Linked DNA regions of Homo sapiens. The protein of the gene in region 7 purifies or fractionates together with the protein of the main gene of each other region. This does not show direct contact. Each region holds a gene or a part of one and is shown on either strand. Other genes may lie near its edges.

Evidence for each region.
Region 1: the proteins of DLD (region 7) and NUDT21 purify together in Homo sapiens (affinity purification with mass spectrometry; 2 studies listed by BioGRID, with this or other methods). This does not show direct contact.
Region 2: the proteins of DLD (region 7) and HSDL2 purify together in Homo sapiens (affinity purification with mass spectrometry; 2 studies listed by BioGRID, with this or other methods). This does not show direct contact.
Region 3: the proteins of DLD (region 7) and DHTKD1 purify together in Homo sapiens (affinity purification with mass spectrometry; 2 studies listed by BioGRID, with this or other methods). This does not show direct contact.
Region 4: the proteins of DLD (region 7) and FMC1 purify together in Homo sapiens (affinity purification with mass spectrometry, with the first as the bait; 3 studies listed by BioGRID). This does not show direct contact.
Region 5: the proteins of DLD (region 7) and PDK3 purify together in Homo sapiens (affinity purification with mass spectrometry; 3 studies listed by BioGRID and IntAct, with this or other methods). This does not show direct contact.
Region 6: the proteins of DLD (region 7) and SLX4IP purify together in Homo sapiens (affinity purification with mass spectrometry; 3 studies listed by BioGRID and IntAct, with this or other methods). This does not show direct contact.

What each region holds. Positions count from the first base shown.
Region 1 is NC_000016.10:56,428,633-56,431,482, forward strand, and holds the end of NUDT21 (cleavage and polyadenylation specificity factor subunit 5), read right to left. Parts: 3' UTR 501-2,850; downstream 1-500. UniProt on the Homo sapiens protein: Component of the cleavage factor Im (CFIm) complex that functions as an activator of the pre-mRNA 3'-end cleavage and polyadenylation processing required for the maturation of pre-mRNA into functional mRNAs.
Region 2 is NC_000009.12:112,378,722-112,382,907, reverse strand, and holds the start of HSDL2 (hydroxysteroid dehydrogenase-like protein 2), read right to left. Parts: upstream 2,801-4,186; 5' UTR 2,745-2,800; coding exon 2,728-2,744; intron 1-2,727. UniProt on the Homo sapiens protein: Has apparently no steroid dehydrogenase activity. Controls bile acid (BA) and lipid metabolism in response to nutritional cues.
Region 3 is NC_000010.11:12,089,454-12,092,953, reverse strand, and holds part of DHTKD1 (2-oxoadipate dehydrogenase complex component E1), read right to left. Parts: intron 1,442-3,500; coding exon 1,270-1,441; intron 1-1,269. UniProt on the Homo sapiens protein: 2-oxoadipate dehydrogenase (E1a) component of the 2-oxoadipate dehydrogenase complex (OADHC). Participates in the first step, rate limiting for the overall conversion of 2-oxoadipate (alpha-ketoadipate) to glutaryl-CoA and CO(2) catalyzed by the whole OADHC.
Region 4 is NC_000007.14:139,340,195-139,344,136, forward strand, and holds the start of FMC1 (protein FMC1 homolog), read left to right. Parts: upstream 1-1,142; 5' UTR 1,143-1,190; coding exon 1,191-1,328; intron 1,329-3,942. Other genes in the region: FMC1-LUC7L2 readthrough protein, read left to right, coding at 1,191-1,328. UniProt on the Homo sapiens protein: Plays a role in the assembly/stability of the mitochondrial membrane ATP synthase (F(1)F(0) ATP synthase or Complex V).
Region 5 is NC_000023.11:24,527,786-24,531,285, reverse strand, and holds part of PDK3 (pyruvate dehydrogenase kinase, isozyme 3 isoform 2 precursor), read right to left. Parts: intron 3,211-3,500; coding exon 3,100-3,210; intron 1-3,099. UniProt on the Homo sapiens protein: Inhibits pyruvate dehydrogenase activity by phosphorylation of the E1 subunit PDHA1, and thereby regulates glucose metabolism and aerobic respiration. Can also phosphorylate PDHA2.
Region 6 is NC_000020.11:10,623,805-10,627,304, reverse strand, and holds part of SLX4IP (protein SLX4IP), read right to left. Parts: 3' UTR 1-3,500.
Region 7 is NC_000007.14:107,904,683-107,908,182, reverse strand, and holds part of DLD (dihydrolipoyl dehydrogenase, mitochondrial isoform 1 precursor), read right to left. Parts: intron 3,226-3,500; coding exon 3,125-3,225; intron 2,823-3,124; coding exon 2,679-2,822; intron 1,917-2,678; coding exon 1,815-1,916; intron 1-1,814. UniProt on the Homo sapiens protein: Lipoamide dehydrogenase is a component of the glycine cleavage system as well as an E3 component of three alpha-ketoacid dehydrogenase complexes (pyruvate-, alpha-ketoglutarate-, and branched-chain amino acid-dehydrogenase complex).

The DNA.
Region 1 (2,850 bases), on a different chromosome or scaffold from region 7:
ATATATTCCCGTATTTTGGGTAAACTTTCTATTTAAGATAACATTGAATTACACAGTATTACATATGCAGCAGGTATGGTGTGTGTCATAGAACATTATGAATTCCAGGCAAGTTTGAGAAAAAAAACTAAAGGAGTCAACCCTCCCTTTACAGATGAGGAAACTCGGACTCAGTCCCCAATGATATGGACTACACACAGTTAACACAACTGTGTAGCAACTTCTAACTTGTGGCCTTCATGTTCCAAATCTAGTGACCCTTTCACACCTCAGGAAACTGAAACACTGCTAACACACAATGGGAGGAGGGAGTGTGTGGGGCACAAGGAGAGGGCAACATCAGTGACCCAGGCCATCAGGCCCTTGCTATTATGCTAAGCTGTCTCTTACCTAAAGGCCCTCGGCCACTCACAGTGACGAACCATGCAAGATTTCTACTAGCACAGTAGGATCAGCAGCCACACATACAGGACTACTATCCCAAAACAATCACAGAGTCATTCTCTTTCAAATATTTTTTATTGAAATGACAATAAAATAAAAAAAGAACAGTGATCACTTTAACCAAACTTACTTTACAAATATAAAAATATAACCAAAACTTGTTTCTTTTATACATTTGCCATAAACGTAATACCAGAAAAGTTCTCAAAACCAAACTATAAATGATGCTTGAATACTATGATGTGAACACAATAACCAAAAGTTTAAATTTCTAAATACATGACCTTTCCCTCAACAGAACAGCATAATCAATATATCTTCCCAACTTATCTCTATTTTTACGATATGATCCATTACTAAGATACAAAATACACCTGAACTGGCCTAATCTAGAGTTACCTAGGTTTTAGTAAGTTTTTTTCCACAAAAACAAGCTTAATAACTATAATACAAGCTAATATTAAAATGTGTTTTATGGCTCAAATCAAATTACAGTATTAGGTTTCTCATCACGATTTGAACAAAAGCAAACTGCTTGAAATGAGTCCAGTTTAACCCAAATAATCAGTGATGTATAACAAGTGAAGTAAGTATGGGAAAATCAAATCTTATGCTACAGAAAGCTGACTTATACTACAGTCAACAACCACTAAGCCTTCTTTGGCAATGAAACATACAAAATTGCAAACTCTGATGCAGTCTCAGTGATTGGCATATACTGTTCCAAACACTATGAACTAGTAAAAACATTAAGTTTGAGGATGGAAAAGCTACCCCAAGCATTTCATCTCAAGTGACTGAACAAGTACTGTAAAAATAAAGTCATTAAAAAGCCGAGAACATAAGAGCACAACATTTAAGAAAGGGAATTTTAAGCCGATTGCTTGCTGGCCTGTTGAATTTGAAGTACTTCTACCTCTCACTTCTAATTAAACATGGAAGAAAACAGACTGGCTAATTTGGTCACACTTTGTCCAAATACAGTGTTAACTTAATGGAACCCTTAAATATCCAAAATAATAAGTGAATGCTATTTATAAGACAATAAAAAGTTTTAAAATCTTCCAAATGTGCTGTTAACAGTACAAATTCAAGTGCAGAATTATTACGCCATTTTAAGTATTATCTACTTTTTTAAAAAATCACAGTGGTCTTCATCACATGGCGAAAAAACAAACTTCACTCTTCTCCAAAGGGATAAGTCCATCCTAAATGTAACTACAAACAATTGTATAAACCTTTATAGTTTTTCCCCCTAATCTACTAAACATATTCCAGTGTCATTTAGTAGTTTTACATAGAATCTGCACTATACTTGGATACTCAGGGAAAATAAGATGACATATATTGTAGTTTTAGAACGCAAAAGAGCTTTCATTTTAGACAAATATACAACATAGAAGCCACTAAAAAATATGGGTCTATTAATCAAGAGCCCATTTCAAAATGATAAGAGCATTTAGTATGTAGATCTGGAATGCACAGTTTCTGGAAGTATTAGAACTTAGTGTTAAACAGTGCCCTTATACCCTCTTCTAATACTGTAGACACCTACCAACCAGATTTGATTTCCCCTAATTCTATTATTTCCATCAGAAAACCAAAAACAGATTATTGGGGATCCACCTGTAACTGACCAGAGCAAAAAGTTTTTAAGACTTCCGTTTGTGTGTTGCAACTTTTACATTCAAAACCAGATCTCTTACATTTCAAGGTTAGTAACCCAGCCATCCTGAATCAAAGGTTTTTCTCAACTAGGCCTTAGTGTATGGATGACTGGCTCACGTACTTACTGTATATTGGGAAGAAGTGAAGAAGTGAGAAGTGAAGAATTTCTTGGTCAAAGTTTAAGTTACAAAGAACATGAGTGGCCTCGAATCAGATGACTCTTCAACTCAAACACTCCTTACTGAGAGTACTTTATAAAACACACAACAAAAGTCTACCTCTCTCCACCCTCCACAAATTGCAAAAGTGAACATCTGAAATGTGGCCACTGTAGCTTTTCCCTCAAAAGCAATCATGGAAGGTGAGCTGAATCAATCCATCTTCATATCCACTTCCTCCAATCTAAAGGAATAGCTGAAGGACGCAGCTAATGGATGAGCTTACCAGCAAAATACATTACATGAGAAATATGCTAATGTAGGCTAGAGGGGTAGGACTGTTAGGGGCAGGAGGGAAAAGGACAATTCACAGAACTAGTGGCTTTTTCAAAGGAAACTGGGGCATTTTTGATCATGGAGACTGGTGCTCACCTACCATGAAGGACATGCACAGTTAGTCACTACTTAACCACCATGTGAGGGTTTGACATGACCCCAACTAAAAAAACTTGAGTGTTTATTAATTGCTCAGCTACACTTGGCCTGATTTCCTCAAGTATCATATACCTTTGACATCACC
Region 2 (4,186 bases), on a different chromosome or scaffold from region 7:
AGAGACTGATAACTCTGGCTTCACAAAAACATGTTTCTCCATGTTAAATAAACAGTATAATCAAAGTCCAGATGCAACATGAAAAACTGTGGAAAATATTTGTAATGTGATAAAAGACAAATTTTTAAAATACACAGAGCCCTCAGAGATTAACGAAAAACCTCATTTGTTAAGCCAGACAAATATAAAGATACATAGATGGCTTTAAACCAGGGTTTCTCAACCTCTGCACTACTGACCTTTTGGACTACATAATTCTTTGTTGTACGGAATGCTTGTGAATTGTAGGATGTGCACCAGCATCCCTGTACTCTACTCACGAGATGCCATTAGCATCTCCATTCAATTGTGACTATCAAAAATGTCTTGAGATATTACCAAATGTCCTCTGGGGATCAAATTGTCCCTGGTTTAAATACACAAAGAGATCCAAATCCACACTTGTGATAAAATAAATGCAAATTTTAACAATAATGAGGTGACACTTTTTTCTCTAATTAGATTTTCATCATTAACTATTTTGCGGTTAGCCAACAAGTGGGATTAGAGGATCTCATTTATCCTTTTGGGTGTGCAACCCTTCTGGGGGGTCATCTGGAAATATCTGTCAAAATATAAAGTGCATTTCCTCTTTTTTCTTTTTGAGACAGACTCTCACTCTCTCTCGCAGGGTGGAGGGCAGGGCAGTGGCATGATCTCGGCTCACTGCCACCTCCGCCTCCAGGTTCAAGCGGTTCTCCTGCCTCAGCCTCCTGAGTAGCTGGGATTACAGGTGCCCGCTACCAGGTCCAGCTAATTTTTGTATTTGTAATTTTTGTAATTTTGTAGTTTTAGTGGAGACGGAGTTTCACCACGTTGGCCAGGCTGGTCTCGAACTCTTGACCTCCAGTGATCCGCCCGCCTCGGCCTCCCAAAGTGCTGGGACTACAGGCGTGAGCCACTGTGCCCAGCCACATTTACTCTTTGATCCAGCAATTTCACTTCCAGGAGTTTATCCTACATATACACTTATATATGTGCAAATAGATAAATACAAGTATAATTATGGAAGCAAAAAAAGAGTATCCAAAAAACTGGAAACAGTCTAGTATCCAACAATAGGGAACAGGTTAAATAAACAAAGGTATATTCATATACAGGTTGAGCAAACCAAATCTGAAAATCTGAAATCCGAACACGTCTGGAACCAAGCATTTTGGATAATGGATACTCAAGCTGTTACAGAATATTATGCAACCATTAAAAAGGAGGAGGGGCCAGGCGCAGTGGCTTACGCCTGTAATCCCAGCACTTTGGGAGGCCGAGGCAGACGGATCACGAGGTCATGAGATTGAGACCATCCTGGCTAACATGGTGAAACCCCGTCTGTACTAAAAATACAAAAAAATCAACAGGGCGTGGTGGCACGCGCCTGAAGTCCCAGCTACTCGGGAGGCTGAGGCAGGAGAATTGCGGGAGGCGGAGGCTGCAGTGAGCCGAGATCATGCCACTGCACTCCAGACTGGAAGACAGAGCGAGACTCCATCTCAAAAGAAAAAAAAAGGAGGCGGAAGATCTGCCATGTACTAAAAATGTATGTCCCTGGGCACAGCGGTGCATGCCTGTAATCCTAAATACTCCAGAGGCTAAGAAGGGAGGAACATCAGCCTGGGAGTTCAAGGCTACAGGCCAGTCTGGGCAACATGGGAGACCCCGTCTTTAAAAAAAACAAAGAAAGAATGTCCCAAGACATACCAACTAAAAGTAGCAAGACCAAGAATAGAGTCTGCTGCTATTTTTAAGAAAGGGTATGTGTGTGTGTGTGTGTGTGTGTGTGTGTATCCGGATGTATACAAATTATGTTCATACATGCACGAAATAGAAACGTAAGTAACTGGGGAACTAGATTTTAGGGATGGGGAGACTCACTTTTTACCCTATACTCTTTGAACTGTTTTAAGTCTTTGGCTATATGCCTGCATGTTTCAGGCAAATTACAAAATCTGACAACACGTCACTCAACTCAAGATACCCAGACCTTACATAAACCAGAAAGTAGAATGGTGGTTGCCAATGTACGAGCGGAGGTGGGGAAGAGGAGTTGTTTCATGGATAGAGTTTCAGCTTGCAGATGAAAAAAGTTCTGGAGATTGACTGCACAACGATATGAATCTACTTAACACTACTGAAGTGTACACTTAAAAAACGGTTAAGATGGCAGATTTTGTACGTATTTTAACACAATTTTTTAAGGTGAAAAAAAAATCCCCCAAAGATACCCATGTTTTAAGATCGGTTTAGTTTCTAATTTGGAAATCATTTTTTAAACACTCCATTATTACTCTAGAATTGAGCGTCAGGAACAAGTGAAAACTCTTTAAACTCTGGAGCTGCTCCTGCGACCTTTCACCTAGAACTCACACGCATTCGGCCAGGCACGCACTCCTGCTAAACTCAGGGAGGGCCGGCACTGGGGGCGGCGTGGTGACTCCCCCTCGGCCCTTTACCCGTGGAAAAGGTTTCTACACTGCTGCCATCCTGTAATACAAAAGTTTGTGTTCCTTTTCACACGTTACCGCAGATTCTCGGTGCACAGTGCCCAGCGCGGACCAGAGCTCAGAGCGTGCCCAGGCAGTATCCTTGACCTCCCACAGCCGGGCCGGCCAGCCCGGGCGATCCGCGGCGGCCCCACCGAGACGCGCCCTTCGCCCGACAGGGTCTCTCCCCGCGCCGCCCCTACCCCCTTACCCGGTGTTGGGTAACATGACTTTCGTAGATCAGAGGAGGTGGCGGCGACAGCGGCGGCGGCGAGCAGAGAGCTAAAGCTGGACCGTCCCTCCGCATTTATCCCCGCCCCTGCCCCGCCCCTGCCCCCCCCGATGCCTGTGCGGGAACTGCGCGCGGAAAAGCCGGGATCGCCGAGTGCGCCTGCGTATGCAGTGGGCCTCCTGCGCCCAGCGTTCCTCTTCGTCGCCTCCCAAGCCTGGTCCCTGATTGCAGGCTCTCCGCGCAGGCGCTTTGAGGCACAGCTCCGCCCCGCCCCCTCACTGGTCGTACGGTGACAATCAGGCTCCTGTCGGCGCCTAGCGTCTGGGCAGCGTCAGCCGCTACGTCCACCTTTTCCCTGTCTCTAGGGGTTTCTCCTCGCGCCGCTGTGTTCCAGCGCCGGCTCCGAGCTGGGAGGGTGACTGAGCCCTGAGCTTGGGCCCTCCGAGAGGTGCGTTAGCTCTGGGTCTTCTTGCCCCTACGCCCGAGCCTGGCGTTCTCTCGGCCCCCTCTTAGGAACGCTAGCCCTGGGCAGAAATTGCCTTTGTGGCTGAAGTCGGCCAGCGTCGCGTTTCCACTCTCCCGCCGAATCTGGACCCAAGCCAGCCTTCCCTTGTGCATCGGTAGATAGCTTGTGTTAAGGCGCCAGCTTCTTGGAACAGAGCTCTCTGCAAAAGTCGCGCTGAAGAATTCATAGTCAAAAGCTGAACTTGCAGAAGTTTCTACTTCTGGAATGAGTGTTGAAATGAGATCAATTCTGACATTCAGTTTCGCTTTTGGGATTATGCCTTGGACTAACTCAGCTACTCTGATGAGCTAAAGACTGTAGTATATTTGAAGGAAGACACGAGGAACTGTTTTGTATTTTGTAGGGATAGAACAGGACCTTGAGGAGATTATTATATGAAGACTAGTTAAAGAAACTAGCCTGGAGATGGCTTATGTACTCTCTCCTTTGTTTTTGTTTTGTTTTTTGAGACGGAGTCTCGCTGTCGCCCACGCTGAAGTGCAGTGGCGCGGATCTCGGCTCATTGTAACCTCCGCCTCCCGGGTTCAAGTGATTCTCCTCCCTCAGCCTCCGGAGTAGCTGGGACTACAGGCATGCATCACCACGCCTGGCTAATTTTTTTGTGTTTTTAGTAGAGACGGGGTTTCGCCATGTTGGGCTGGCTGGTCTCGAGCTCCTGACCTCAAATGATTGGCCCGCCTCGGCCTTCCAAAGTGCTGGGATTACAGGCGTGAGCCTCCGCGCCCGGCCTCTCTCCCCTTTGTTATGGGCCCTAAATGACTCTATTTCCTCCTGCATATCACCTGCCCGACTCCTGTAGGCATTTGAATTGATGATTCATGATACGGTCTTTAGAGGCTCCAGAGGAATTTGCAAATTATTATCATCCACTAAGTGATTGCTGATTACCTGAGATACAGCAGCTCAAAAAGG
Region 3 (3,500 bases), on a different chromosome or scaffold from region 7:
GTGAGCCATGATTGTACCACTGCACTCCAGTCTGAGTAACAGAGCAAGACTCTCAAAACAACAACAACAACAAAAAAACCTACCAATTTCCACAGATAAAAAAGAAGCTGACTTTGATTCTTCACATCTTATTTCTTTTTTTTGCCCTTTGAGATGGAGTTTCGCTCTTGTTGCCCACGCTGTAGTGCAATGGCCTGATCTTGGCTCACTGCAACCTCCGCCTCCCAGGTTCAAGTGATTCTCCTGTCTCAGCCTCCCGAGTAGCTGGGATTACAGGCATGCACCACCATGCCCAGCTAATTTTGTGTTTTTATTAGAGACGGGGTTTCTCTATGTTGGTCAGGCTGGTCTCGAACTCCCAAGCTCAGATGATCCACCTGCCTTAGCCTCCCAAAGTGCTGGGATTACAGACGTGAGCCACTGTGCCCAGCCTTCACATCTTATTTCTAACTATACTATTTCACCAAGTTTAGTGGTTGAACACATCCCTTATCACTAAGCCCCTGGGCACTCCAAGTTTGAATATCCTAGAGATAACAACTCTGGTGTTGTACTCATTGTGTTGATCTCTGACTTGTACCAGATCACCCATCCAGTTATAAGAAATTTGAGATGGCACACTGTGGCTCCATCCTTGTCTTATTTCTTTGGATTTAAAAATCACACTGATAGGCTGGGCATGGTGGCTCACGCCTTTAATCCCAGCACTTTGGGAGGCCTAAGCAGGCAGATCACCAGAGGTCAGGAGTTCAAGACCAGCCTGCCAACATGGTGAAACCCCGTCTCTACTAAAAATACAAAAATTAGACAGGTGTGGTGGTGTACACCTGTAGTCCCAACTACTTGGGAGGCTGAGGCATGAGAATCACTTGAACCTGAAAGGCGGAGGTTGCAGTAAGCCGAGATCACGTACTCCAGCATGGAGTACAAGCTGGAAAGGGCAACAGAGCAAGACTCCATCTAAAAAAAAAAAAAAAAAAAATTAGCCAGACATGGTGGTGCACGCATGTGGTCCCAGCTAATCAGGAGGCTGAGGCAAGAGAATCACTTGAACTCGGGAGGCAGAAGTTGCAGTGAGCCAAGATCGTGCTGCTGCACTACAGGCTGGGTGACAGAGCAAGACTCCATCTCAAAAAATTAATTAATTAATTAATTAATTAAATGAAAGGAGGGATAACCAGTGAGGCTCATTGTTCTGTGTGCACCAGAGGTTTCCCTAGGAATTCCATGTCGGCTTCAGCAATATCAGTTCCTCCCTGTGTTACGTACCAATATCACTGCAGTATAAAGAAGACCTTCCTCTTTCAGCTGGAGTGGTGTAACCCAGCTGGTTATTAACAATCAAATGCACACTCCCACCAATTCTGAAATGTGGGAGATTGGACAGCGTGAATGTTTCAGGAACAATCCCTTGACCACAGAAAGAAGCATCACCATGGACCTAAATCATGAGGCAAGGGGAGCGGGTGGGGAGAAAAGAAACATAAGGGATTAAGAAATCTAGGTTTTCAGGTTGGAATAACTTTTTTTTTTTTTTTTTTTGAGACAGAGTCTTGCTCTTTCGCCCAGGCTGGAGTGAAATGGCACGATCTCAGCTCACTGCATCCTCTGCCTCCCGGGTTCAAGTGATTCTCCTGCCTCAGCTTCCCTAGTAGCTGGGATTATAGGCATGCACCACCACACCCGGCTAATTTTTTGTATTTTTAGTAGAGGCGGGGTTTCACCATGTTGGTCAGGCTGGTCTCAAACTTCTGACCTCAGGTGATCCACCCTCCTTGGCCTCCCAAAGTGCTGGGATTACAGGCATGAGCCACAGCGACCAGCCTCATTTATCATCATTTTAAAGAAAATGGCCTTTTCACCTTTTATTTCAGAAGTCAATCTTTTTTTGTTTTTTTTTGAGACGGAGTCTCGCTCTGTTGCCCAGGCGGGAGTGCGGTGGCGCAATCTCGGCTCACTGCAAGCTCCGCCTCCGGGGTTCACGCCATTCTCCTGCCTCAGCCTCCCGAGTAGCTGGGACTACAGGCGCCCGCCACCACAATCTTAAGATCAGCTCAATGTACTGGGTAAAAATGAAGGATTAAAATAGAGTATTATAAATTATGTGAAAGGTAAACAGAATGTCTGGCTAATGATTTCAAGATTTCTATTTAGAAACACCCTATCAGGCCAGGTGCAGTGGTTCACACCTGTAATATCTACACTTTGGGAGGCCAAGGCAGGAGGGTTGCTTGAAGCTAGGAATTTGAAACCAGCTTGGCCAACCCAGCAAGATCATGTCTCCACAAAATAAAATAAAATAAATCAGCCAGGTATGATGGCATGCACCTGTAGGCCCAGCTACTTGGGAGGCTGAGACAGGAAGATTGCTTGAGCCTAGGCATTTGAGCCTACAGTGAGCTATGATTGCACCATTGCACTCCTGCCTGGACAAAAGATTGAGAACCCATCTTGAAAGAAAGAGAGAGAAAGAAGAAGGAAGGAAGGAAGGAAGGAAGGAAGGAAGGAAGGAAGGAAGGAAGGAAAAAGGAAGGAAGGAAGGAAAAAAGGAAGGAAGGAAGGAAAAAAGGAAGGAAGGAAGGAAGGGAGGGAGGGCCGGCCATATCATAATGAAATCCAATTCTGCCTACTCCCAATTTATTCACTACAAGTTTCTGGCCTGTGAAAAATTAAAATGCATAGGATAACGTGGCATTTACAAACATAGAATATTTGATTGCCTTATATATTTATCTATTTCTGTGGAATTTGAAGACTGATTCTGAAATCCAGGTTTCATGATCTCCTGTAGTTAAAGGTTCATATTTAAATGAATACTCACAGAAGAAACATGACCACAGCCCAAACCTCTAAAAGATACTTGTTGTGTTACCAAAAACTGGGAGACAGGGTAGAAAAAGAACGAACCACACTGATAATTTGTGTTATGTGCCTTAATACCAAAGACTTTCATTTTCAAATAAACAAGCAAAAAAAAAAAATAGGCTAGGTATAGTGGCTCATGCCTGTAATCTCAGCACTTTGGGAGGCTGAGGTGGGAGGATCACTTGAGGTCAGGAGTTTGAGACCAGGCTGGCCAACATGGTGAAACCCTGTCTCTACTAAAAATACAAAAATTAGCTGGGCGTGGTGGCACGTGCCTGTAGTCCCAGCTACTCGGGAGGCTGAGGCAGGAGAATCACTTGAACCCAGGAGGCAGAGGTTGCAGTGAGCTGAGATTTCGCCACTGCACTCCAGCCTGAGTGACAGAGTGAGACTCGGTCTCAAAAAAAAAGCCATAAAAAAGAAAAGATAATAAAGTAAACAAGAAACGAAGTAAAACCACACTTAAAGTCTTTTTTTTTTTCACGCTTGTCTTGTTATATGTATGGGAACCACAAAGTTTCCAAGAAGGCCATACTTCCAGAGAGATAATGACATCTGTGCTCTAAGAAGGAGCAGGTTTGCCAGCCCAAACCCCAAGTTAATTCATAAGCCATGCAAGGAAAACAGAAGTGGAA
Region 4 (3,942 bases), about 31 Mb from region 7:
CTCAACGCTTCAACCGGAAGCAGAAATTGACCGCGGCAGGCGCCATCTAACGGCCGCTGGAGCAAAGCTCCTCCTGGAAATTCGCAACACCGGAAAAGGTCCGGCTGCTTCCGGTAAAAACCCACCAGAGCTGACGTTCAGAGGGCGAGTCTCGAAGATCCGGCCAATTTGCCCAGCGCGCTGTGCTCCGCGACGGCGCATGCCCGCTTTTGCGCAGGCGCGGGGACTACGGCGCAGGCGCGGAGACTATTGCGCAGGCAAGCGCGTACGCAGAAGCGTGCGCGCGCCCGTTCAACGTCCGGAGCATCGGTGCAGTTTCGAGGGTAAAGCCTTTGGCGCGGTGATGTGGACTTTTGTTCTCTAACTACAACTCCCAGCATACGTCACCCCTCACGTGGGCGCTAGGTGTGGTTTCGTGGGATAGGGTAAGGCGAAAATGAAGTGACGATGACGTACCAAAGAGGAAAATAGTTGAATATGTTGTGTGAGCGCGTCGTTTGCAGAAGCCCCAGTGGCCTAATGGATAAGGCATTGGCCTCCTAAGCCAGGGATTGTGGGTTCGAGTCCCATCTGGGGTGGCCTGTGACTTTTGTCCTTTTTTCCCCTTTCTAAACAAAGCGAAATATGCCAACTTTACTTTTTTTTTTTTTAAATGGGAAGTGTGTGTGTGTTTTTACTAGCTGGTGGGCTGCAATTTTCGAGAATCTGCACACACCCATGTCCTTTGTCTGAGCCGCAGGTCCCCTGGGATTTGGGGAGACGTCAATACGTTGAATTTTGATATCCCTTTTATAAATCATTTAAAAATGTCTTCTCAGCGTGTTCCATATCAAATCCACACCCACACCCCCCGCCGGGCCCGCTTCTCCTGAGACTCAGCGGTTGGTCGGCTAACGGGCATCTTCAATGACGCAGTGAAGAAAAGCCCCTGTTTCCCCAAACCCTTGTTCTGGGTTAGAGGTCCTGGTACCTTCAGTTAACAGTCGGGTTTCGTTTGATTTTGTTACGGCGCCCCTGGGCCTTCGATTAATAAGGTTCGGTCAACGGACAAGTGAGCGGTTCCACTGCTCGTCAGTCGATAGGGGGAGTCGGTAGTCTGTCCGACCGTACCATTAGGCGCCTGGGCCGGAGGAGGGGTTTTCAGGGTCGTAGGACGCCGTTGGGCACCACGCTCGGAGAAGGACAGGACAATGGCGGCCTTAGGGTCCCCGTCGCACACTTTTCGAGGACTTCTGCGGGAGTTGCGCTACCTGAGCGCGGCCACCGGCCGACCCTATCGCGACACCGCGGCCTATCGGTACCTTGTGAAGGCTTTCCGTGCACATCGGGTACGGGAGCCATGTCCCGGGTGCTCTACGTGCTGGGGAGGGAGGAAGAGCCGGGTCTGGGCTAGGGTGGGGAGCACGGTGTTTAATTCCTGCATTTCTGAGGCCAACCCTCCCACGGAGCCCTGGTTCTGACCAAACCAACCCAGGCCCTAGGCTCCATGCTCTGGCATAAACTCGGGGACCAAAGGACCAGCGGGGGGGGGCGCAGAGTCGCTCTGGGGACGTCAGCCTGTCCTGCAGAGGGGCGGACCCGTCCCGAAGGATTTCATTGGCTGGTCTGTTGCCTCTGCGGAGGGCAGTCAGGAAAGTGGAATGGAGGATTCAATGCTGGGGATAAAACAATGAAGATGGAGTTGAAGGGTGTACTGTTGCTAGACTTAAAGCCACAGCATCTGGCCAACAATTTCCTCACCCGTCCCCTAGAAAAGTTATTCTAAGAAGCATTTCTTTTTGAGGCGGAAAAGAACAACTGGGCTTTAGGGAAGGAAACTTGCTGCCCTTGAGCAATGTGGGGAAAGGGAGAACGATCAACTGTCGAATTTCTGAGCCACGGACGTCAGAATGTAAAATCTTAGAACTCAAATTCACCTAGTTTTTAAAAGGTGGCAACGTTAGGGTCTGTGCTAGGAACCTGGTCTAAACAGGAAGAATCAGATGCACATGTGTCCTGTCCTTAAGACACTTGCTGCCCACCTAAGGAGCCATACAGTAAAGTACTGAGGATAAATAAGTGCTCAAGGTGTAGACAACAGGGGCTGGGGTATAAAGAAGGGGTAGTTAGGGAAGGTTTTCCGGAGGAAATTAATCAGGGACCTGAAGGCTAATTTGGAGTTAGCAAGTAAATTGGGGTTAGGGTCCAGGTTTAAAAGCTACACAATTGAAAGCCCAAGGGGAGAAAAATTGCCAGTTGAGAGTGGTTTAGCCCTAAGGTGTGGTGGGTGAAGTGGAGGTAGATGAAGTGGTAGGCCGAACAGGAACTTAAACTTTATTGTAAGTGTAATGGGAAGCCATTCTAAGATTGTGATCACCTCCCAGGTTCAAGCGATTCTCCTGCCTCAGCCTCCCGAGTAGTACAGGCAGGCGACATGCGACACCACGCCCGGCTAATTTTGTATTTTTAGTGGAGACGGGGTTTCTCCATGTTGGTCAGGCTGGTCTTGAACTCCTGACCTCAGGTGATCCGCCTGCCTCGGCCTCCCAAAGTGTTGTAATTACAGGCGTGAACTATCAAACCTGGCCCCATTCTAAGATTTTTAAGGAGGTGACATGATTATAGTTGTACCTTATGGGGATAACATTATTACCCTTGAGAGAGACTTGGTAATGGTTCTGAAATTCATGGTACATTCTGGAAATACCACTCTGGAATGCACTTGAGCATAGGGGAAATGGTTTCTGTTTCCTTCAGGCTCACAGCTAACTGAATAACCATCCCATTTTCTCTATCCTTTCCCTCCGGAGAAGGGATTCTATTAGGGAGAAACCTACCCTTTCTCCACAGGGAAAATACAGTGTTCTATTTCATTTGATCTCTTTTGGGTTCTTGTGATCTATTTACTGTTTCCTGTCTATTGCTGACCCTTTTGTCCTCATGATTCAGGCTCAACCGAATCAAGAGCAGTATTCTATCCTACATTAACCTAGAATTCCCATGTCAAATTCCACAAATTTGGGCTTATATATTAATAGAAGTGGATGCTATGATTTGTTAATGCTTGACATTGGTGTTGATTTCTCATAAAATTTAAATTACTAAAAAGTTAAATTTGTATTAAAGCAGATTAATTCTGTTTTTAAGCAGCTAATGAATGTTGCTTTCAACATGATCTGCAGATCCTAAAACCCACATTCTAACAGCATGGGCAACATAGTGTAGTGAGACTTCCTCTCCAAAAAATTTGAAAATTATCCAGGCGTGATGGCCCATCCTCTAGTTCCAGCTAATTGGGAAGCTGAGGTGAGAGGATCACTTGAGCCCAAGAAGTCGATCAAGGCTGCAGTGAGCCATGTTCATACCACTGCTCTCCAGCATAGGCCACGGAGCGAGACCCTGTCTCAAAAACCAAGAAGCCACACACATTCTAGTTTTCAGATTCTAACACTAGATATTCAAATAGAGAAAGGGGATTAGGCCAGGAGCGGTGGCTCACACCTGTAATCCCAGCACTCTGGGAGGAGGCGGCAGGTGGATCGCTTGTGCCCAGGAGTTCACGACCAGCCTGGGCAACATGGTGAAACCCTGTTTGTATAAAAAATACAAAAATTAGCCGGATATGGTGGTGTGCGTCTGTAGTCCCAGCTACTTGCGGGGCTGAGGCAGGAGGATCACTTGAGCTGGGGAGATCAGCAGCCATGTTCACGCTATTGCACTCCAGCCTGGGCAACAAAGTGAGACCCTGTCCCCAAAAAAAAAAAAAAAAAAAAGAGTTGGTGGGGGGCGTATTATGTAGGCAGTGGTGCCCAGATTTATCCACATTTGGACATGGCTCCTTTAGTCCCTCAGAGCTATGCACACATCCCCATCTCACCTTTCCTGCCCCTTTCTCACAGCCTTGAATACAGAACTAGTTAAAGAGGGTGCAGTGAATCTCAAAAGTTAAGTATGATGAAGAAA
Region 5 (3,500 bases), on a different chromosome or scaffold from region 7:
GAATTCATGATCAGCCTGGCCAACATGGCGAAACCCCATCTCTACTACAAAAATTAGCTGGGCGAGGTGGTGGGAGACTGTAGTCCCAGCTACTCAGGAGGCTGAGGCAGGAGAATCGCCTGAACCCAGGAGGTGGAGGTTGCAGTGAGCTGAGATGGCGCCACTGCACTCCAGCCTGGGCGACAGAGCAAGACTCCATCTCCACACACACACACACACACACACACACACACACAAAAGCACATTCCAAATCAAGTGGAATGTGACCTGATGACAAAACTAAACCACATCATTTCAAAGTCCCATGATCAGATTTCCTTGCTTTTGCAAGTGAAAATCAATAGCGCAGTGCTGAGTACAAATCTACCAGTAACAAGACGAGAACATGGAAAGGAAAACAATTTTCTGAGAGGCAACTACTAAGGTTCCGGGAATGTGAGAATATTTTGGTATATTGTAGTTCAGGTATTTTTAGAGATTAAAAAAATTTTCAGTACCCTCCTATATCTCTATGTCAAGGAATCCTGACTGTCAATAACAGGTGTTCTATGGACAAGAACAGTAAGAATCAAAACTAAATGTAATACCATTTGTGGTGGTAGTGGGGCAGGGTGGGGAAGGAGATGTAACACCAAGCTTCCTCACTTCTGGTTAAATCTATGAACAAGGTTAAGGAAGGAGGGCAGGGGACCATGTGCACAGAGTCACATGGGCCTTAGACTCAGACAGACCCAGTTGAAATCCACTTTCTGTGCGACTCTGAGCAGTTTACTCAACCTCTTTGAGACCATGTTTTCATCTGAACATATGATAAAAAACTGACCTCAGAGCTGCTATAAGGATTAAATAATATAACAAGTATAAAATCTTGGCACAGTGCCTAACACAGTAAAACTAAATAAATTGAGGCTGGTACTATGGCTACTAGGAGCAGCAATTTTATGAAGTTACACAGATTTCTGCCATTTTCTAACATCTCTCCTTGATACCTTCCCTCAGGGTAGGGTTTAACTGAAAGGGCAGGGGGTAAAAGAACGTACCCCATTATTTAAGGGCTTTGGGACTTGCTGAATATGGCCAGTAGTGAAGATGAGATATTTATAGTAGTGACTCAGGTAACCACAGCAAAGAAACTAGCTCACTCTAGGAAGAGATGTGAGCAAATCTGCCTTCTATGTTCAAGCAAGGCCCAGAGCCTGCCCTCATGTCCAACACAGAAGAGCCGAGAACTCCGAGGCCAATGCAGATGTGAGTGTAAGCCCAGACTCCCAAAGAATGCAGAGGAGGGGTCTGGACCTCGGATTTGCTGAGGTTCAGGAAAGGTTTCCCAGAGTGTCAAAGGATCAGCAGGAGTTCGCTGGGTGGATATTCTCAAACAGAAATGCACATGTAAAGGCACAGAGGTGTAAAAGGTGTAAAAGTGTAAGTTGCTCAATGAGGAAATTATGTTTTCTAGTAGTACATATCCATGTGCCCACTTTAAAGCTGAGGACAGTTTCTTTTTCTTTTCTTTTTTTTTTTTTTTTTGAGGCAGAGCCTCGCTCTGTCGCCCAGGCTGGAGTGCAGTGGCATGATATAGGCTCACTGCAATCTCCACCTCCCAGGTTCAAGCCATTCTTGTGCCTCAGCCTCCTGAATAGCTGGGATTACAAGCATGCGCCACTGCTCCCGACTATTTTCGTGTATTTTTAGTAGAGACAGGGTTTCACCATGTTGGCCAGGCTGGTCTCGAACTCCTGACCTTAAGTGATCCACCCGCCTTGGCCTCCCAAAGTGCTAGGATTACAGGCCAGTTTCCTAACTGGGAGAGCCACTAGCAGAAGCATTTCTTCGGCCACGTAGTACACTGGAAAGAACACAGACATGGCCAGCACCAGCTCTGCAGTTAATTAGTTCAATGACTTTGGACAAGGTCATTTCCTCATTTCCTCATCTATACAATGGGAGTGCGCATGCGTTAACTGTTAAAAGTCTCTTACAAGCCCTCAGTTTCAATAAGAAAAAAAACCTATGATATAACAGCTATCCTCAAGATGCTATTTTAAGACCTGGAAGAGACAATCTATATTTCTTTTAAACAACTGGGGAAGGTGCTAGATTTGTTTGTGGTGCCTTTTTTCCTTTTGATGTGTATTTAAGTGCATGCCAGAGCCTAGTCAAGGCAACGCCTCTCAAATGTGATCTTTCATGAATTTTCTCGACTCCTATATAAATGATTTCCTGTTTCCAACATGCTGAGTTAACAAACTCTGTCTCAAATAAATGATGCAAAGTGTTTGATTTTATTCATACAAATAAAATATAATCTTATGTGCTTATCAGTCAGGTACGACTTTAAAATGAAACTTAATTTATACCCTGAACCATTTTGCAGACTGATAGATATGTTGCTGTGTTTAATGACAAAGGGTTCAATTGTTGTTTGTCAATTAGAAACACTCAGCAGGGGAAGCAAGTGTGGCCCTACCAGGATCTAAATGCTACCATGGTAACCAGTGGCTTTTCTCACTGCCTTAACAGGGCTGAAGGTTATTTCCAGAGTGAGACAGAAAGGGCTCTGAAAATGCATACACCACCTATATGTTTCATGCTAATGTTATTTAACATAAAAATTTAATGTTTTCATAATTTAACATTTTAATTATATAAACAAATTTGACAGTGGAGATTCCAAGGCACTAGGTGATTCGCGCCTCTGTGGTACGCACGCCAGAGTGCGCAGGACCAAGCGGCAGCTATGCATTCAGTACTGTCCCTTTGCTCACCCACTGGCAACTTCCACCCCTTCCAAGGGTAGCACAAAGTGGAAAATGGTGCTACAGTAGCAGTCTTACCACAATGAGGTACTTTTTCTCTGTATATGGGAATGAGGCACTCAGCTAGGAGTGTTTCTTAGACACAAATCAGAGAGGAAATTGAAGTCCAAAGGATTCACAAAGCAAGTAGCCAAGGCAAAAAATTCTCCCTCCTCCAAACCATAATACACGCAACCTTCTAAATCAACTACACTAATGTGACAACCTGGGGAGAGAGGCAGCTCCCTCTGAGCCCCTTCCTGTGTTTATGATCTTTCCTTCAGCAGCACTTTCAGATGCTTACCAAAGGGGCAGCTCTGGTAGGCTCCAGGCTGGGTCTAGGAGCAGTAGAATACATGTAGTTAAAAAGACGATCTATTTTTCGAAGTGGGACACCACCACCTAGGTCACTGATCTGCAATGTTCAAAATGTTAACAATCAAAACAAAGAAGTTGATCTATACTTAGTAGGAGGCAATGGGTTCATTAAATAAAGTACATAGCAGATTACTCCACAATGTACAAGGACTTTGAATCCCCCAGTGACATACGGTTCCTTTGTGAACAGTGTAAAACAAAGGAGGCCGAATGGTACAGTGGGATCCAACAGGCTTGGTGTTGAGGTCTTGTTCAACTCCCTGAATAACAAGGTTCTAATGAAGTTTAAATAAGGTAACTTAAGCCAAGGATCTAGCATAGAACTTA
Region 6 (3,500 bases), on a different chromosome or scaffold from region 7:
TTTCAATAATAAGGAATGAATTCTCTTGTCTTGACAAACCAAGCATGGAAATTTCCCCATAAGAGAAAAGAAGAAATTAAAATGATTTCCATATTCAAGTCACAGCACGCTGAAAAGAGAACTTTGAGTTCTTAGGAAAGGCATCTGTTACCTCCAAAGGAGGGCCACTCATTACAGTTTTGTGTAATATTACAGTAAGGTCTGCCAAGAAGGAATTCAAGGAAATTGGGAATGACGACACTGTGATCCCAGGCCACTCTCTTGAGCAGAGGTTTCCTTCCCTTATGTGTTCTGCCCTCGCCAAGCTCTTTCTGAAATCAGAGGCCACTGACATGCATAACAAACCATGCTAAAATCCAAACATGACACCAACAGCAAACAATTACACTGTGATCCCATTGTGGTCCCCAAGATATATCTTGAGATACTTCAGAGAGAAGCTATATTCTTCATAAATCAAAATACAGAGGGTTTTTATGATTCTTGCTTTTTATAAAATGAAATACACTTCTATAGTATTAAAATAAGTGAACAAAAGAACTACAGCACTTACTCCCCTACCCCCAAATGTTTGCTTCTTTGCATTTCACAATTCATATGCATATCTGGACGACAGTTAACCTCCAGTGGCAAAGATAAGAAAATGTGAAAGAAAAATCATACAGATTGTTCCCAGACCTTTCTTGTTTATGGACATTAAAATAACCTCAACACCAATCTATTAAGATGCCATCTGAAAGCACATGGAAGTGGCTTAGAATCTATGCCGCTGAGAAAGTTAGGAAATTCAAAGTTATAACATTAATCAAATCATATCAATGACTTCTCCAAGCATTGGAGTCACAGGGACTTGAATATAATTTGGGGTACTACGCAAGTGGTTGAAGAACTTGTTCTTTTTGACTAACAATACTGACACTGTTTCAGACTTTCAGATGCCAAATTATTAAGATCATTAAGAATGTCAAAACAGGCCGGGTGCGGTGGCTCTCACCTGTAATCCCAGCACTTTGGGAGGCCGAGGCGGGCGGATCACGAGTCAGGAGATCGAGACCACCCTGGCCAACACGGTGAAAACCCGTTTCTGCTAAAAAAAAAAAAAAAAAAAAAAAAATACAAAAAATTAGCCGGGCGTGGTGGCGAGCGTCTGTAGTCCCAGCTACTCAGGAGGCTGAGACAGGAGAATGACGTGAACCCAGGAGGCGGAGCTTGCAGTGAGCCAAGATCGCCCCACTGCACTCCAGCCTGGGCGACAGAGCGAGACTCTGTCTCAAAAAAAAAAAAAAAAAAAAAAAGAATGTCAAAACACATACCATTCCCAACAGTGAGAACTCTTCATATCCTACCTAATAAGCAACAACAACAAAAAACCCCTGGCATCCATTTACCCCTTTGTACTTCCAAATATCCAAAGAATCATGCAACCACTCAAATAACAAGAGAGCCAGGGGTGTTTCAGCCATGTGCAAGAAAAATGCTTAAAGGCAAAATTCCTCAAACACATGTCACAGTGTGGGAACTGAGAGCCATTCCCTCTGTAAATCCTGTTAAAATCCCTTTTACATGAAGGGACGTGAGGGCTGTGAGGAAAACTACATCTATCTACAACCAAAGGTGCTATTTTTTCTCTTCGATCACAGTAATTGTTATATCCCCAACTATAACAAACTCTAAAGCCAAGACTTTTCCTGACAGAGAATCATTCTAAGTACAAGTACTAGCCTTAACCACCAAGCCCAGGTTAGCTAATGAAATAAAAATTTCTCAATACCAGAGTGATACTTCAGAGAAAGATTAGAAGAAAACAGAAATAACAAAAAACCAACAGAACAAACAAATAAAAACTTCTCAATAGAAATGTTCTCTGGTGGCTCCAGCTCAAATATCTCCCCCCTAGTTCTGGAGCAGGCAGTGGCTACTGTTCTAGTACAGCCGTCTTTTTAATTCCAGACTCTTCCAGAGAGCTGCTTCTTGGTCTATCCCCTGGGTTACTTATTACTTGTGCCCTCCCTATATCTAAATCGTTCTAATTGCTTCTGTTTAAGAAGATTCAGTGACACACTGTGGTCCTGTGTTCAATAAAGAGCACACCTAAAATACTGTTTGCTCTAAGAGAGGCGCCTACAGTGGGCCATGGAAATGCACATTCTACCAGGTACTCGGTTTCCACTCTGTGCAGCCCACCCCTATTGTATAAGCAGAGTCAGCTCCACTGAAGTTAGTATTCTGTTGGGCTCCCTCTTCTCCTATAGAATCCCCTGACTGGGTTCCGCTGGGAGCAGGAAAAAAGCCAAGAGGGAAGAGGACAGGATACCAGTAGGAAGGGCTGTTTCAAGTGGGGGTGGTGAGGCTGGGATCATGGGACAGGAACAGGTTTCTAGGCAGGGTTTGGAACATTAAAGTAACAGTATCTACCACCACAGTCAGGCTTGGTGACCAAGATGGAATTTCATGACCCAAAATGGTGCCATGAAATATAGCTGCTGCTTCATGAGTCTTACTGGTCTTAACAAGTGGGGACAGGAGATACGGGAAAGGATAGAACGGGATGGAATAAACCACTAATCCATCTCAAGCATGAACCTACACTATGCCTGTTTCTGTACTCTTGTCATTGTTTTGGGCTTTTCTGGGTGATTTTTCTGCTAACTTCAACACTTTAGGGAATATACTTGGTTTTCCTTATTACTTAGGGGAGGTGCCATTTCAAAGGACCACCCCATGTTGAACAGAAAAAAAAAAAAGATGTATTGAATGAATGGACCTTGAATATTGTTTCTTTCCTCTTTTAGAGTGAAATTCGGTTATTGGAAACTTTTAGCGGGTGTCCATCCAAAATAAGTCATTGCTACAATTCACTATGTGACATTTCATCAAGCCCACTGGAGACAGTGGGTGACATTGTAAAGGGAAGGCTCCCATCTTGAAATTTGAACTGCCTGCGAAGCCTTCCAACTGGGAAACTGGAACCTGGTCACTGAGTTCCTGTTAGGTTATAGTCTGTCCCAAACCAAAATCCTGGAGGTGGGTGCAAGAGCAGGGACTGGGACATGCTTGAGCTACAGGCAACAACGAGCCTCTCTGATGTCTTCTCCTAAGGTTGGGCAGAATCGCCCATCGACTTCAACAATTATAAGGGAAAGTAACACCTTCATGGGTGCCATGGCTGCCATACTGTAGAACCCGGAAGAGAGTGACCCATACACCAAACCCAAGTGTTTTACGAGTTTGAGGGAGTCCGAGGGGATGCATGTGCACATCTGGCCCCAACTGGTGAGCTGGAGGCCATGGCAACCAGGCTGCAGGAAGCACTGGGGAGTGTTCTATTAGTCCAGTGGTTCTCAAACGCGAGCATGTTTCAGAATCACCCAAAGGCAGTTACTCAGCATGGGGCAGGGCCCAATAACCACATTTCTAGCACATTTCCAGACAACGAAGCTGGTCCCAGGACCACGCGCTAAGAACCACTAGCTTGTTCTTTCACTGCCCTCCTACTCAGG
Region 7 (3,500 bases):
CAAGACTCGGACTCAAAAAAAAAAAAAAAGAAAAACAAAAATACTAACAATTAAAGGGAAGCCTAAGAAAGGGGAACTTGCATAATATGGAGAATTCAGCCCAAAGAGCAGATGTAAAAATGGAAGAATATGAAATCACAGAAGTTAGGCAAAGTGTTTCAAAGGCAAGAAAATCAGCAATGCTAATTACTGCCAAATAAAGCAGTGAAGAAATTAGTCCAACAGATTGAGCAATAAATAGATTCATGCCCTAAGAGCAATTTATTGGCACAAGCCATAGACTGAGTGAGTGGAAGTTGATGAAATAAAGCATGGACAACTCTTTTGAGAAGCTGGGTTTTGAAGGAAAAGTGCGAACAAAATTGGTAACTCAAGAAGGACATGGGACCAAGATAAGGAGCATTTATGTGCACACAAACCTGTGTTAATGAGTGCAAATGCATCACAGGTACACACATAGAAGCACATGAAATTGTAAATAAAAGGAAGGAGTTTGAAGACTGAAAAATACAAGAATAAAAATCACAAAACCAAGTCTCTGAAAAGGCAGATGATGTGCTACCAAGCACAAGTAAAGGGATTAGTCTTAGGGAAAATGGCATTTCCACAGTAATAGGAGAGGTAATCAAAAGGATAGGTGTAACAACAGGTAAAAGCATTATCAAATTTAGGACATCAACTTGAGGGAGTTCTCATCTGATTTCTCTTTTATGTAATATTTAAAAGACAAGGTCATCCACAGGCAGAGCAGACAGTATACAAGCAGAGATTTGAGAAGAGTAGAAAATGAAAATGGCCATTGCAGAGACCAGGGCAGTGTACCATCTTAGGAAATAATAAACTGTCAGCAAGGCTGAGGTTCTTGTTAAGGTTTGTGCCAAGAATTAATACAAGTACCAATGAGTAGGGTGTGTTTTTCTCCAGGTGTAGTCAACAGCCTGGAAATAGCATAAAAAAGGCAGACTGCTGCATTCAAACCGAACTAGAGTTTTGCCAAGCAGATATGACAGAACAGTGAGACAAGCAACTCAAGGACATCTGTAAGAGTGTGGTTAAAGTGATGGACTATGGCATCTAAGCTGATCAGGAACGCAGTCAAGATTGGAAAGGGAAGATTGCAAAAAAGTAGATCTATGGACTAGAAAACCTAAAAAAGGGTACAAAGTACACTATGAATAACTGAGTAAAAGAGGAAAGGAGGTCATGGTTACATAATAAAATATCTGAATTTATTATTTCAGAAGTAGAGCAATTCCTGGTGTTTACAAGGCACAGTGACTCTAAAATGGAGGGAGGTCATTGGAAATGTGTGGAAAGCTGCCAGATGGACAAGAAGGGAGAACAAGGCAGACAGAAGGTCTAAAATAACATGGTGTTCAAAGAAATGCAAGTAGTTTGACATTTCTAAAACCTAAGTTAAGAGGCATCAAGATGAGGATAGAGAAGGGAAGAGCCAAATCATGTATGTGATGGTAAAGAGAATAATCTTTATTTGGAATGCAATTTGCCCAGGATAAAAGCTGTCCTCAAATATCTGAATGGCTGTCATATTAAAAAAGAATTCGACCAGTTCTAGGAAATGGAAGGGTGGAAGGTACAAGGAAACAGACTAAAATAAAGGAGAACATTCTAAATGAGTAAATACATAAATAGGTTGTCTTGAAAAAAACAAAAGTAAACTCTTTATTACTAGAAGTGTTTAAGCAAAACTCAATGCTGATCAGCCTGTAATGTTATACAAAAAATCAAAAAGGGGACCTTTAAGTCCCTTCCAACTCCAAGGAGGTAATAAGAGGCAGAAAGACAACACTTACCAATTCTACACCTATTACTCCTGCACCAATAACAACCATCTTTTCTGGAACTTTTTTTAAAGATAAAGCACCTGTAGATGACACTATTGTATCTTCATCTATCTGTAAGAAAAACAAAAGATATAATCAAAATAATTTGAAAAAACCTAGTACAGTCGACCCTCCATATCCATGGGTTCCAAATTTGCAGATTTAACCAACCATTAATTGAAAATATTCAGGAAAAAAATTGATGGTTGCATCTGTACTGAACATGTACACATGGTTTTTTTGTCATTATTCCCTAAACAATACAGCATAGGAACTACTTGCATAGCATTTACAGTGTATTAGGTATTATAAGTAATCCAGAGATGACTTAAAGTATACAGGAGGAAGTATGCAGATTATATGCAAATACTATGTCATTTTATGTAAGGCACTTGAGCATCTGTGGGTTTTGGTATCCAAGGGGGGTCCTGGAACCAATCCTCCAAGGATATGAAGAGATAAATGTATTTATAAACTGTGATCTCAGTAGAATCACTAAAAATACTAAGTCATTTATTTGTTTTGAGGTATCTATATACCTAATTTCATCAAATCCCATTAAAAACACTGACTTTAAATTTTATCCACCAATATTCCAAACGCAATGGTCAATTTTAACTTCATACTGTATTCAAACATATCTTAATATAAAGTGTTCTATAGCTGGTCAGAATCACTGCAGAATAAAGACAGGTAACTTCCCAAAGCTGAATGACCATCAAAATATAGTATTTCAGTCAGAAATCTCTCAAAGTTCACAAATAGCATAAATAACTTATAAAACGTATTTCTAAAGAAAAGTTGTAATGGTTGTAAATTATGAAGCATAAATACCGTGATTCCAGGAAAAGGAGTAACTTCTGAACCCGTGGCTATAAGAATGTTCTTTGTATCAATAACCTGAGTGCCGCCATCAGCTTTCGTAGCAGTGACTTGATTTTTGCCAGTTATCTTTCCATATCCATTGACATGAACAACCTTTACAAAATAATCTTTATAAATTCACAAAGTTTAAAGTAATTTGTTTGATAAATCATTCAAAGGAAAAATTACTCTGTAAATAATTTATCTAAAACAAAATGCTTCCTTACTTAGTAATGCTACACCATGGTGCAGCAAAAAAATCTGTGATATATGTCAGGGAAATCTATTTCAGGTTAGCAAGCTATTTTAAATTAAATAAATATTCCCCTGTAACCAAGTTCAAATATCATCACTCTATAATGCAAAGTTTAATTTGTATTCAAAGTAAAGCAGAAATCTGAATATTAAACACTGACCTTATTCTGTTTGAATAAGTGGGCAATTCCACCTGTTAAAGCTTTTACTGCAGTACTCTTCTGCTCCATCATCTTGTCTAAATTCAAGCGAACTTCGGACACTGTAATTTGTTCAATTAATCTTTAGTTCTTAGCTAAATTCTTGAAGCAATATGCAGTGTTTTTCACTCACCAACTGGAAAATTTCAACCTAATGCTTATAAAAGGCAGTATTAAAGTTTCAAAATGTAATAACTTATAATTATAGTTGACAAAAGGCCAACATCATTGTATCACAGAAACAGAACCTATCAAACACTATAAAATGTCTACCTTGGGTAAAAAGGCAGTCCAAAATAAAACATTATATCCCACTGTGATAACATATCCTCTGAAC